2 separate regions of the Homo sapiens genome follow, and region 1 is linked to region 2. The links come from fine-mapping of genetic effects on gene expression. A gene starts in region 2. The other region holds a variant in brackets. All regions are shown on one strand. Distances are between the middles of the regions. Region 1 overlaps SAAL1 (serum amyloid A like 1). Region 2 holds the start of TPH1 (tryptophan hydroxylase 1).

Region 1 (5,387 bases), 32 kb after region 2:
CAGTCTCACCTGTGGTTTTTTTTTTGGTTGCTGGACTGGCCCACAAGACTCAAGACTACATTGGCCCAGGCTCTTGTAAGTTTGACTAGCCCAATGACATAAAAGGAATAAGCATCATTCATAATCAAATTAAAGCTTAAGTTGTGTATCATTTATTTGCTTTTATAAACCTTTAACAGGAAGGCCAGGTGTGGTGACCTGCAAGCCCAGCACTTTGGGAGGCTGAGGCAGGATTGTTTGCAGCCAGGAGTTCAAGACAAGCCTGGGAAACAGTGAGAACCCATCTCTACAAAATCAATAAATAGGCCAGGTGTGGTGGCTCACGCCTGTAATCCCAGCCCACTGAGAGGCCAAGACAGGCGGATCACCTGAGGTCAGGAGTTTCAGACCAGCCTGGCCAATATGGTAAAACCCTGTCTACTAAAAATATAAAAATTAGCTAGGCTAGGCATGGTGGCTCACGCCTGTAATCCTAGCACTTTGGGAGGCAGAGGTGGGCGGATCACAAGGTCAGGAGTTTGAGACAAGTTTGACCAACATGGTGAAACCACGTTTCTACTAAAAATACAGAAATCAGCCGGGCATGGTGGCATGCGCTTGTAATCCCAGCTACTCAGGAAGCTGAGGCAGGAGAATCGCTTGAACCCGGGAGGTGAAGGTTGCAGTGAGCCGCGATTGCGCCACTGCACTCCAGCCTAGGTGACAGAGCAAGACTCCGTCTCAAAAAAAAAAAAAAAAAAGAAAGAAAGAAAGAAAGAAAGAAAACCCACAAAATTAGCCAGGTGTGGTGGTGCGTGCCTGTAATCCCAGCTACTCAGGAGGCTGAAGCAGGAGAATCGCTTGAACCTGGGAGGCGGAGGTTGCAGTGAGCCAGGATCACACCACTGCAATCCAGCCTGGGCAACAGAGTGAGACTCTGTCTCAAAATAAAATAAAAATGAATAAATAAATAAAAATTAGCTGGGCATGGTGGCATGCACCCATAGTCCCAGCTATTTGGGAGACTGAGATAGAAGGATGGCTTTAGCCCAGGAGTTTGAGGCTGCAGTAACCTATGAGTGTGCCACTACACTCTGGCCTGGGCAACAGAGCAAGACCTTGTCTCTGAAAAAAAAAAAAAAAAAAGTATAATGGAACCCCATGTAATTGTCACCCAGCTTCAGCAACTCCAATTCGCAGCCAGTCTTGTTTCATCTACTCCATTAACTTACTTCTTTCCCTCTGCCCCAGACTAATTTGAAGCAAATCCAAGACATCATACTATTTCACTATAAATATATAACTTTTAATAATGGTTCTTGGATCTCAAACCAGCAACAAAAAGAAAACATATTCTATTCAGGATGCTGAGGCAGGAGGATTGCTTCAGCTCAGGAGTTTGAAACCAGTCTTAGCAAGAATATAGTGAGATCCGTATCTCCAAAAAAAAAAAAAAAAAAATAGGAAAGAAAAATATGGTATGGTTAAGAGGGGCATTTGCCTATTTTCCCTTTCTTAAAACTTCTGACAGGAGCATGGAGGAAACTGAAGTTCCAAAGTGGTAAAAGAGAACACATGCTCAAGTAGAATAAATAATTCAGTCCTAAATTAATATGGACCTATTTCTTCTTTTTTAAAAAGGCTATTGATTAGGTCATAAAGAATATTAATTAAAAAAGAATATTAGTTGAAGAAATAGAATACTAGAGTTACAGATTATCAGCTTCACAGCTAGCTCAGACACAGCATCATTGCCCAGTCCTGAAGAACAGATAATGGTGTTCAATATTTCATACACTTAAGATTTTCTGAACCCCTAATAGAGGTTGTTTTTTAATGCTTATAGTCGGTTTCTACATGTGCTTCACCAAAAAAAAAAGTATATCAGGCTGAGAGGTGGCTCTTAAACTTTTTCCCACTTACATACCAAAATTATTCAGTAACTAATTCAAAGCAAGGCAACAGAAAATACTAAA[C/G]ATAGAGTGGGGAAACTCTTGATCTGGAAAGCTGAACCCACCAAGAAAACAACAGTTTAGCTATATCCCATTTGCTGTAGGGGATAAAATATCTTAAAAACAAAACAAAACAAAACAAAACAAAAACAAAAACAGTGGAAGGAAACCATGCCTTCTTTCTTAGTGGTTTAGGTACTTAAAATATCAAACTCAATATAACAAATGCTAACTCAAGCTCATTTTGCATTTTTCCTCTTCCCTGCCAAACAGTATAGGGAAAAAAATGAGTTTCCATTTCATTTGTGTATATAATTTCATCTGTATATAAAATTTCATATTTATGGTTCTGGAGAAAGCACCATTTCAAAATATCACTGCAACTGATTCAAGCACTAAATCTTGTGAGTGAATTCTTCAGAACATGCAGCATTAAAAATGCTTTAACACTGGTCACTTAAAAGTATCATAATTTATAGATATAGGATGTTTTCAAACATACCAAAGTACTATGAAAATATGTACCAAAACTCATAATGCTAACAATAAAGAAGTAACAAAGTAAACAGTGTAGGTCCAAGACAGAAATGTGAGCAGAAAATAAATTGGACACTCCTTGCCTTCCCACTACTATCCTTTCTCCTCCTCCCTCTGTAATTTGCCATTTTTGTGGAACACTCCTTCAGGTACATAAGGTCCTTGTGCTTCCCGTTTTAAAACACGCTCTCAGAAGGCTGGGCGTGGTGGCTCACGCCTGTAATCCCAGCACTTTGGGAGGCCGAGGCGGGCGGATCATGAAGTCAGGTCGAGACCATCCTGGCTAACACGGTGAAACCCCGTCTCTACTAAAAATATTTAAAAAATTAGCTGGGCGTGGTGGCTGGTGCCTGTAGTCCCAGCTACTCGAGAGGCTGAGCCAGGAGAATGGCGTGAACCCGGGAGGCGGAGCTTGCAGTGAGCCGAGATCCCGCCACTGCACTCCAGCCTGGGCGATAGAGCAAGACTCCGTCTCAAAAAAAAAGAAAAAAAATTAAAAACAAACAAACAAAAAAACAACAAAAAACATGCTCTCAGAAAAAAAGTGAAATTCATATGCACTGAGGTAAACATAACTAATAACCTCAAGTATTATTCTTAATCAGTGTTTGCATCTTAAGCTTAAACTTAAACAAAAAAAAAACCAAGAGTGGAATTTTCGTGTCAGCTAGCAGGTAGGAGTGATTTCATCAGTGCCTTTGAAATCTCATACTGAATATAGTCAATTCAGTCTACCAATAAGGTCAGCACTGAGGACATGCGAATATACATACAGTGTAGTATATATAAACCTACCAATGAGATTTCACCTGTAAGATTTTACTTTTATGTTCCAGTTCTTTTCAGCAGTGACACTTCCAACCATAAACCTACCTCTAAACTGGAAATCATATTATCTCTTACCAATAAGATTACTGTTTTTATCACCAAAAATCTGGTTTTATCACCAAAAATCTCTCAAGGAAAGAAAACAAAGTATGAGGCAAGACCAATGCTTTAAAGCCAAAAAACTGATATAAATTGGGAAGGGGCTATACCAAAAGTGAGGTTCAGAAAGCTGGCTTTGTTATTCCTAACAGATATTTTCTTAAAAATCTATTAAAAAGCACCCCCCCAACCCAGCCAAACACACATAAAGACTTGGTAGGAAAAAGCCCCTTCTCTTTCTCCCTTTTTCTTCCTGAATGTGGATAAAGGCCCAGAGATGGCACAGCCCCCTTAACCACAAGGCAATAAACATGAACGCAAAGGCCTACCTGGCAGACCACGTGAAGGGTGAAAGGAGCCACCTCATTACATCTGGATTTTTGCATAAGGTTCCTGAAAGAGATCAGATTCAGCTGCTACAGGAGGGTTTCTGTTACTGCAGCTGAATATACTTAACAGTGGATACAAAGACGTAATTCTCACTTAAAAAAATCAAATTAGGCTGGGCACGGTGGCTCACGCCTGTAATCCCAGCACTTTGGGAGGCCAAGGCGGGCAGATCACGAGGTCAGATCGAGACCATCCTGGCTAACACAGTGAAACCCTGTCTCTACTAAAAATACAAAAAATTAGCCAGGCGTGGTGGCGGGCACCTGTGGTCCCAGTTACTCGGGAGGCTGAGGCAGGAGAATGGCATAAACCCAGGAGGCGGAGCTTGCAGTGAGCTGAGATCGCACCACTGCACTTCAGCCTGGGCGACAGAGTGAGACTCTGTCTCAAAACAAACAAACAAACAAACAAAATTAACAGCTATGAAGAAAATCAACACTGATCTCGCACATATCCTAAAAAGAACCTCAATGATAAGCTTACATTTTTGCTTTCCTCAACTGAGGATGATAAATATCACATAAAAAGAGGGGTGACAGTGGTGAAACCTCAGATTCCAAAGTCAAAAAAAGTGAGACAAGTCTAGGACAGAAAAATGTTAACACCAGACAATTATGGTCTAATATGGGCTTTAGTTAATATTTCCAATAAGTCAATTTCAACTGTCAGTGAGAAAAATAAAGTTTATTTCTTGTACAGAAGTAATTCCAATTCAGGTTTTAAGTCTGAACCTTCAAACTTGGGAAGTTTTTTTCCAAGTCATCAGCAAGCGCCTTATCAACTTCACGTAGGATTTTAATAAAATCTTCCACCTGTGAGTCAAACAAACAAACAAAAATCAAACACAGAAGAGAAAAACGTGCTTTAAGGTACTGATTGCTCTACCTGTGGTTTCTAAATGGTCCAATGGAAAAGAAATGCTGGCAGATCTCCAGATGATAGTAACAGTACTTCCTAAGCAGTCTTCTAAATCATTCTCAAGGAAATGACTATGCTTTCCCATTCCGTTTTACTCTTGAGCTAGTACTTCTCCCCCCGCCTCTTCTTTACAGTCTGTTCCCACATTCTGTCCTTCATTTTCCTGAAAAAGTTCCTATTTTGAAATCTGATTCTAATGGTAGGAAATGTGATGTCATTTGAAGAACCATAAAAACCTACTGACTATTCCCAAGAATCTGATTTTGGCTTAATATAGATGTTATCTACTTCATAACAGAAAGGAGTACTATAAATTCAGAGCTTATTTTTTTCCTCTTAGAATTGTTACTCCCAATACTATTATGAATTTTCCAGTAGTCATCTTTTTTTCCCTCAACTTTTATTGTAGACTCAGGGGAGTCTAAATGTGCAGGTTTGTTATAAAGGTATATTACATGATGCCGAGGTTTGAGGCACAGATGAACCTGTTACCCAGGCAGTGAGCTTAGTACCCAATAGGTAGTTTTTCAGCCCTTGCCCTCCCTCTCTCCCTCCCCTCCTCCTGTGGTCCCCAGTGTCTACTGCTCCCATTTGTATGTCCATAGTATCCAATGGTTTAGCTCCTACTTCCAAGTGAGAACATACGGTATTTGGTTTTCTGTTTCCAGCAGTCATCTATCTGAC
Region 2 (5,387 bases):
CTGCAGTGATCCATGATCGCGCCACTGCAGTCCAGCCTGGGTGACAGAGTGAAACCCTGTCTCTTAAAAAAAAAAAAAAGAGAATTTCCTTCAATTTTCAAAACTGGTCCCTAAGCTTTCCTGGAAGTTGCTATTGTGAGAAGGTGCTAACAGTCATGGCTCCATCCCTTTAGGGTTCATAATTATTTTCTTTACCTGATTCTGGAATGGATCAAGTTTTGTGCCAACATCTCCTTAGTTGGTGTGGGGAGAGGAGGGTGAAGGATACATTAATTGAAATTTATGATATGCAAGGCATTTATATTATTTTGATGTATTTAAAGACATACATTATTATATTAAGATGTAAGTGGCTCACACCTGTAATTCCCAGCACTTTAGGAGGCCGAGGCGGGCGAATCATGAGGTCAAGAGAGCGAGACCATCCTGGCCAACATGGTGAAACCCCGTCTCTACTAAAAATACAAAAATTGGCTGGGTGTGGTGGCGGGCGCCTGTAGTCCCAGCTACTTGGGAGGCTGAGGTAGGAGAATGGCTTGAACCTGGGAGGCGGAGGTTGCAGTGAGCCAGGATCACGCCACTGCACTCCAGCCCAGGTGACAGAGCAAGACTGCGTCTCAAAAAAAAAGATGTGGAAACACTCCTCCTTGTTTAAGTCATGGTAAAAATGAAGGTTCTCAAAAGGAACTTTTGCTAAGAAACTAGAAAACTAGAAGAAAATTCTCACCCTCTTTTTTGTTCCCCCCCACCCCAAAATAATCTTACAGGACATAGATCTTTGATCGTTACTAAAACTTGGCCATAACTTTGCTTGGTTGACAGAGCTTATGAGGCATCAGTTATTTTTTCCTCCAGTTAACCCCAAACCGCTTTCAGAACCTCAATATTTTGCCTTGTTACTTTTTCCTTTCCCCTTTCAACCTACCCACCTCCTCCTACTCTTTCAGGAAAACAAAACAAAACAAAACAAAACAAAAAAACACAATACTAACCTGGTAAGATAAAATAGGTCACACTTGTTTGAATCAGTGTCTCATCAATACATAAGCATTTTATTTTTAAAGCAACTCTCTGATCAGCTAATACCAACTGGTACCCTTTTCTCATGAAAGGTAGAGTCATTTTCCTACTGCGTCTCCTGGCCTAAGGATGCACTGTGTAGGACATACCACTGGAAATAAGGAAAAAATACCAAGAAGACACTCAGAAGATCAACAGACCCGACCCTTGGGAGAGGTCAAGGCGTATACAATGACCAACTCTTTTCTTCCCTTAGTTTAATCAGTAAAACAAGTGTAATTTATATTTACCGGATCTAGGAAGCACAAAGCACTACTGAATTAGTCTTTTGAAAGCATGGATATTGTTTGAAGACAGAACTAAAAACTGCAAGGAGGATTCTTTCAGAGGGAGGGAATCCTCTACGGAGTCTTGATTTTCTTTTCTAAATAAGGAGTGGGAATGAGGATGAAAGTGTAGATGAAATACAAAAGAAAACACTATCCATGAAAAACAGTATTCTAGGAAATAAAGGCACTGGCAGAGAAAATGGAAATAGAAGACACATCCCTATCTGGAGATAATCTAATAATACATGTACAAATGGACCTCAGTGATAACATATGTAAACCACAGATTATAACTTTACAGAAACATTGATATTAGAATTCCACCCCCCCCTTTTTTTTTTAACTAACAGGCACAAACTTTTCCTGGGTTAGCAAGTTCAACTCTAGTCTTTTTCCTGCTAAGTCAAGTAGAGTGGGACATCAATGAGAAGTTCATTTTAAACCTCTGAAAATCAAACGCCAAAGGCAAGGTTGAGTTCACACGGACTCTTAACTGACTCTAAACCGCAAGGACCTAGTCCTCTTTGTCAATTGCGACCTTGCAAAAAGCTCTCAGTCGTCTGTTGGGATGGTGGTGATGATGGTAAGTGCGATGCTGAGAAGCTTTGCATCTGAGACTCCTTCTTCTTCGGGAGGCTGTTTAAGGGAAGCTTCCCTTCATGGGAGGAGAAGAAAAAAAGAGACATTGCCCTTTGATGGAGAGGAAGGGAAGGAAGAAAAATCTTACTGTTTCTGCCAACATAGAGGAGTCACACAGACTTGGGTTGGACTCTGGACCCCACTTTCCTCATCTGGGGACTCAAGAAATATCTACCAGAGTTTGTCATGAAGGTGAAATCTCATGATGGCTAAAGAGTCTGTTCCTGGCACACAGGAGGCACTCAGAAAGTGTCTTTTCTCCCCAAACAGCGTGGGAGGAAAGAATAGTAAGCGTTTATAGGGGTACAACTCCGACCTCCCAAATCTGACTCCGCAAGACCACCAATTTACCTCCCGGGAGGGTGACTCTGCCCAGCCCCGCGCCTGCCAAGCGCCGCCAAAGCCTCGACGGCGGTCCCCGGTGCCCGCGGGAAGGGCCGCCTCACTCACCTCGGGCGCCAGTAGGTGCAGGCTGGGTCGGCCGGCGGCCCCGCGCTGCCTGTCTCTTATAGAAGCGGGCGTCGGAGCAGCTGGGCAGCGGCCAATGAGAAGGGAGGGCCGGCGGGTGTGGGGCGTGGGCAGTCGCGTCCGCCTGCTCCCAGAGACTTGCACGCCTCAATCTCTGCGTGTATCTGACTGGTGTTTTAATTAAGTGAATGTTAGGCCGTCCTTAACCACACAAGTCTGACTAACACTGAACAATCCAGAGTTGGACATTCTCTCCAAACCAAGATAACGCCTATTATCGACACAATGACCTGCTATAGGACTGCAGTGCTTCTCGCCTGTTGGAGACCAAAGCAAGAATCCCCCCACCTCCCACACCTCTCTGTGCTTCTGGGCTATTTAATAGCCCAGTCCTGACTTATTATTCTCTTGGTGCTTTCCCCCATTCCTTGAGGCAGAGCAACAGTTAGTTGAACTTTTTAGAAGAGAAGTGTTCAGTGCCCTTCTAATTAAAAAAAAATTTTAAGCTGCAAGCAGAGAAGCATTCTATATTAGCAAAAAATCATATTACGTGCTATTGTGAACAACAGGACATAGAGGCAAAAAATTTGGAATAGGTATTTACTGGTTGAGTAGTCAGTCGATTAGCTCCTTATCCCAAAGGACTGTACACATAACGAAGTATATTATAGGACATTCTTTCCTCCAATGTTTGAAAAGTAAGATTTATTGATGTATAATTAACATACAGTAATATTCACCCTGTGAGGTGTACAATTCTGAGTTTTGACAAACATGTATAGTTGTGTAACCACCAAACGATCAAAATATAGAACATTTCTATCACTGCGAGAAATTTCCCTTGTCTAAAGTCTCTCACCTCACACCCAGCCCCTGGCAGCCACTGATCTGATTTCTGTCTCCACAGTTTTGCCTTCTCTGGAATGTCACAGAAATGAAATCATGAAATATGTACAGATTTTTGGCTCCTGGCACTTAACATAATGCTTTTGAGTTTCATGCAGGTATTAGTGATTTGTTCCTTTTCTTTCCTGTTTTCTTTTTTGCTGAGTATGGATGTACTTTAAAGCTCAGGATCTTTACAGCTTTTCTATGCATTTTTCTTTTATCTGTATAATGCTTCTATGAGGTACATATTATTTGTATTTTACAGATACGGAAATTGAAGCACAGGGGTGGCTCTAAGACGTTATTCTGGCACAGGCTAGTAAGTACCATCAATAATCAAGCAAAAGTGTCTGAGTTTAAATCCAGTGCTCTTACTTCAATGCCATAAAAAATACTGGTCAGGGAGAGACCTTTCAGAACCAAGCTGAGGTCAAAGATGTCTTTCCTAAACTGAAAGCCTTTCCTTGTAGATCTGGAACACGATAAGGATGCCCAATTTCACCACTATTATTCAACATAGTACTGGAAGTTCTAGCTAGAGCAATCAGACAAGAGAAGAAATAAAGGGCATCCAAACTGGAAAGGAAGAAGTCAAATTATCCTTGTTTGCAGATGATATGATCCTATATTTGGAAAAACCTAAAGACTCCACCAAAAAACTATTTGAACTGATTAAATAATTCACTAATGTTGCAGGATACAAAATCAACATACAAAAATCAATAGCGTTTCTGTATGCCAATGGTGAACAGTATGAAAAAGAAATTAATCCCATTTACAATAGCCACAAATAAAATAAGTACCTAGGAATTAACCAAAGGAGTGAAAGATCTCTACAATGAAAACTATAAAATACTCATGAAAGAAATTAAAGAGGACACCAAAAGAACAGAAGGCTATTCCAAGTTCATGGATCGGAAGAATCCTTATTGTTCAAATGTCCATGCTACCCAAAGCAATCTACAGATTCAAGGCAATCCCTATCAAAATACCAAAGACTTTCCTTACAGAAATAGAAAAAACAACCCTAAAATTTATATGGAATCACAAAAGACCCAGAACAGCCAAAGCTATCCTGAGCAAAAAGCACAAAACTGGAGGAATCACATTACCTGACTTCAAATTATACTGCAGAGCTACAGTAACCAAAACAGCATGGTTCTGGCATAAAAACAGACACATAGACCAATGGAACAAAATAGAGAACCCAGAAACGGATCCACACACCTACAGTGAACTCATTATTGACAAAGTTGCCAAGAACATACAATGGGGAAAGGACAGTCTCTCCAATAAATGCTGCTGGGAAAACTGGATATCCATCAGAAGAATGAAACTAGACCCCTATCTCTCACCATATATAAAAATCAAATCAAAATGGATTAAAGACTCAAATCTAAGACCTCATACTATGAAACCACTGCAAGAAAACATTGGGGAAACACTCCAGGACATCAGTCTACTCAAAAATGTCTTGAGTGATACCCCACAAGCACAGGCAACCAAAGGAAAAATGATTGCATGGGATCACATCAAGTTAAAAAACTTCTGTACAGCAAAGGAAACAATTGACAAAGAGAAGAGACAACTCACAGAATGGGAGAAAATATTTGCAAAGTACCCATCTGACAAGGGATTAATAACCAGAATATATAAGGAGTTCAAACAGCTCTATAGGAAAAAATTTAATAATCCAATTAAAAATGGTCAAAAGATTTGAATAGACATTTCTCCAAAGAAGACATACAAATGGCAAATAGACATATGAAAAGGTGCTCAACATCCTTGGTCATCAGATAAATGCAAATCAAAACTACAATAACATGTCATCTCACCCTGGTCAGGCAATAACAAATACTAGAGAGGATGTGGAGAAAAGGGAACCCTTGTACACTGTTGGTGGGAATGTATAATAAATTAGTACGACCACTATGAAGAACAGTTTGGACGTGCCTCAAAAAACTGAAAATAGAGCTACCATATGATCCAGCACTCCCACTGCTGGGTATATACCCAAAGGAAGGAAATCAGCGTATTGAAGAG

The links. PIP is the estimated chance that this variant, and not a neighbour inherited with it, causes the effect.
Region 1: its variant is the best candidate, but not a certain one, in a credible set for the expression of TPH1 in cerebellar hemisphere (GTEx, PIP 0.88).

What each region holds. Positions count from the first base shown.
Region 1 is chr11:18,075,895-18,081,281 of GRCh38, forward strand. It overlaps SAAL1 (serum amyloid A like 1), which reads right to left. Exons shown (of 12, transcript NM_138421.3): 12 at 4,398-4,597. The coding sequence ends at 4,505. Among named protein-coding and RNA genes, the nearest start is that of SAAL1, 27 kb to the right of the region's middle. The variant C/G (reference allele first, on the strand shown) is at 1,956.
Region 2 is chr11:18,043,803-18,049,189 of GRCh38, forward strand. It overlaps TPH1 (tryptophan hydroxylase 1), which reads right to left and starts at 2,467. Exons shown (of 11, transcript NM_004179.3): 1 at 2,439-2,467.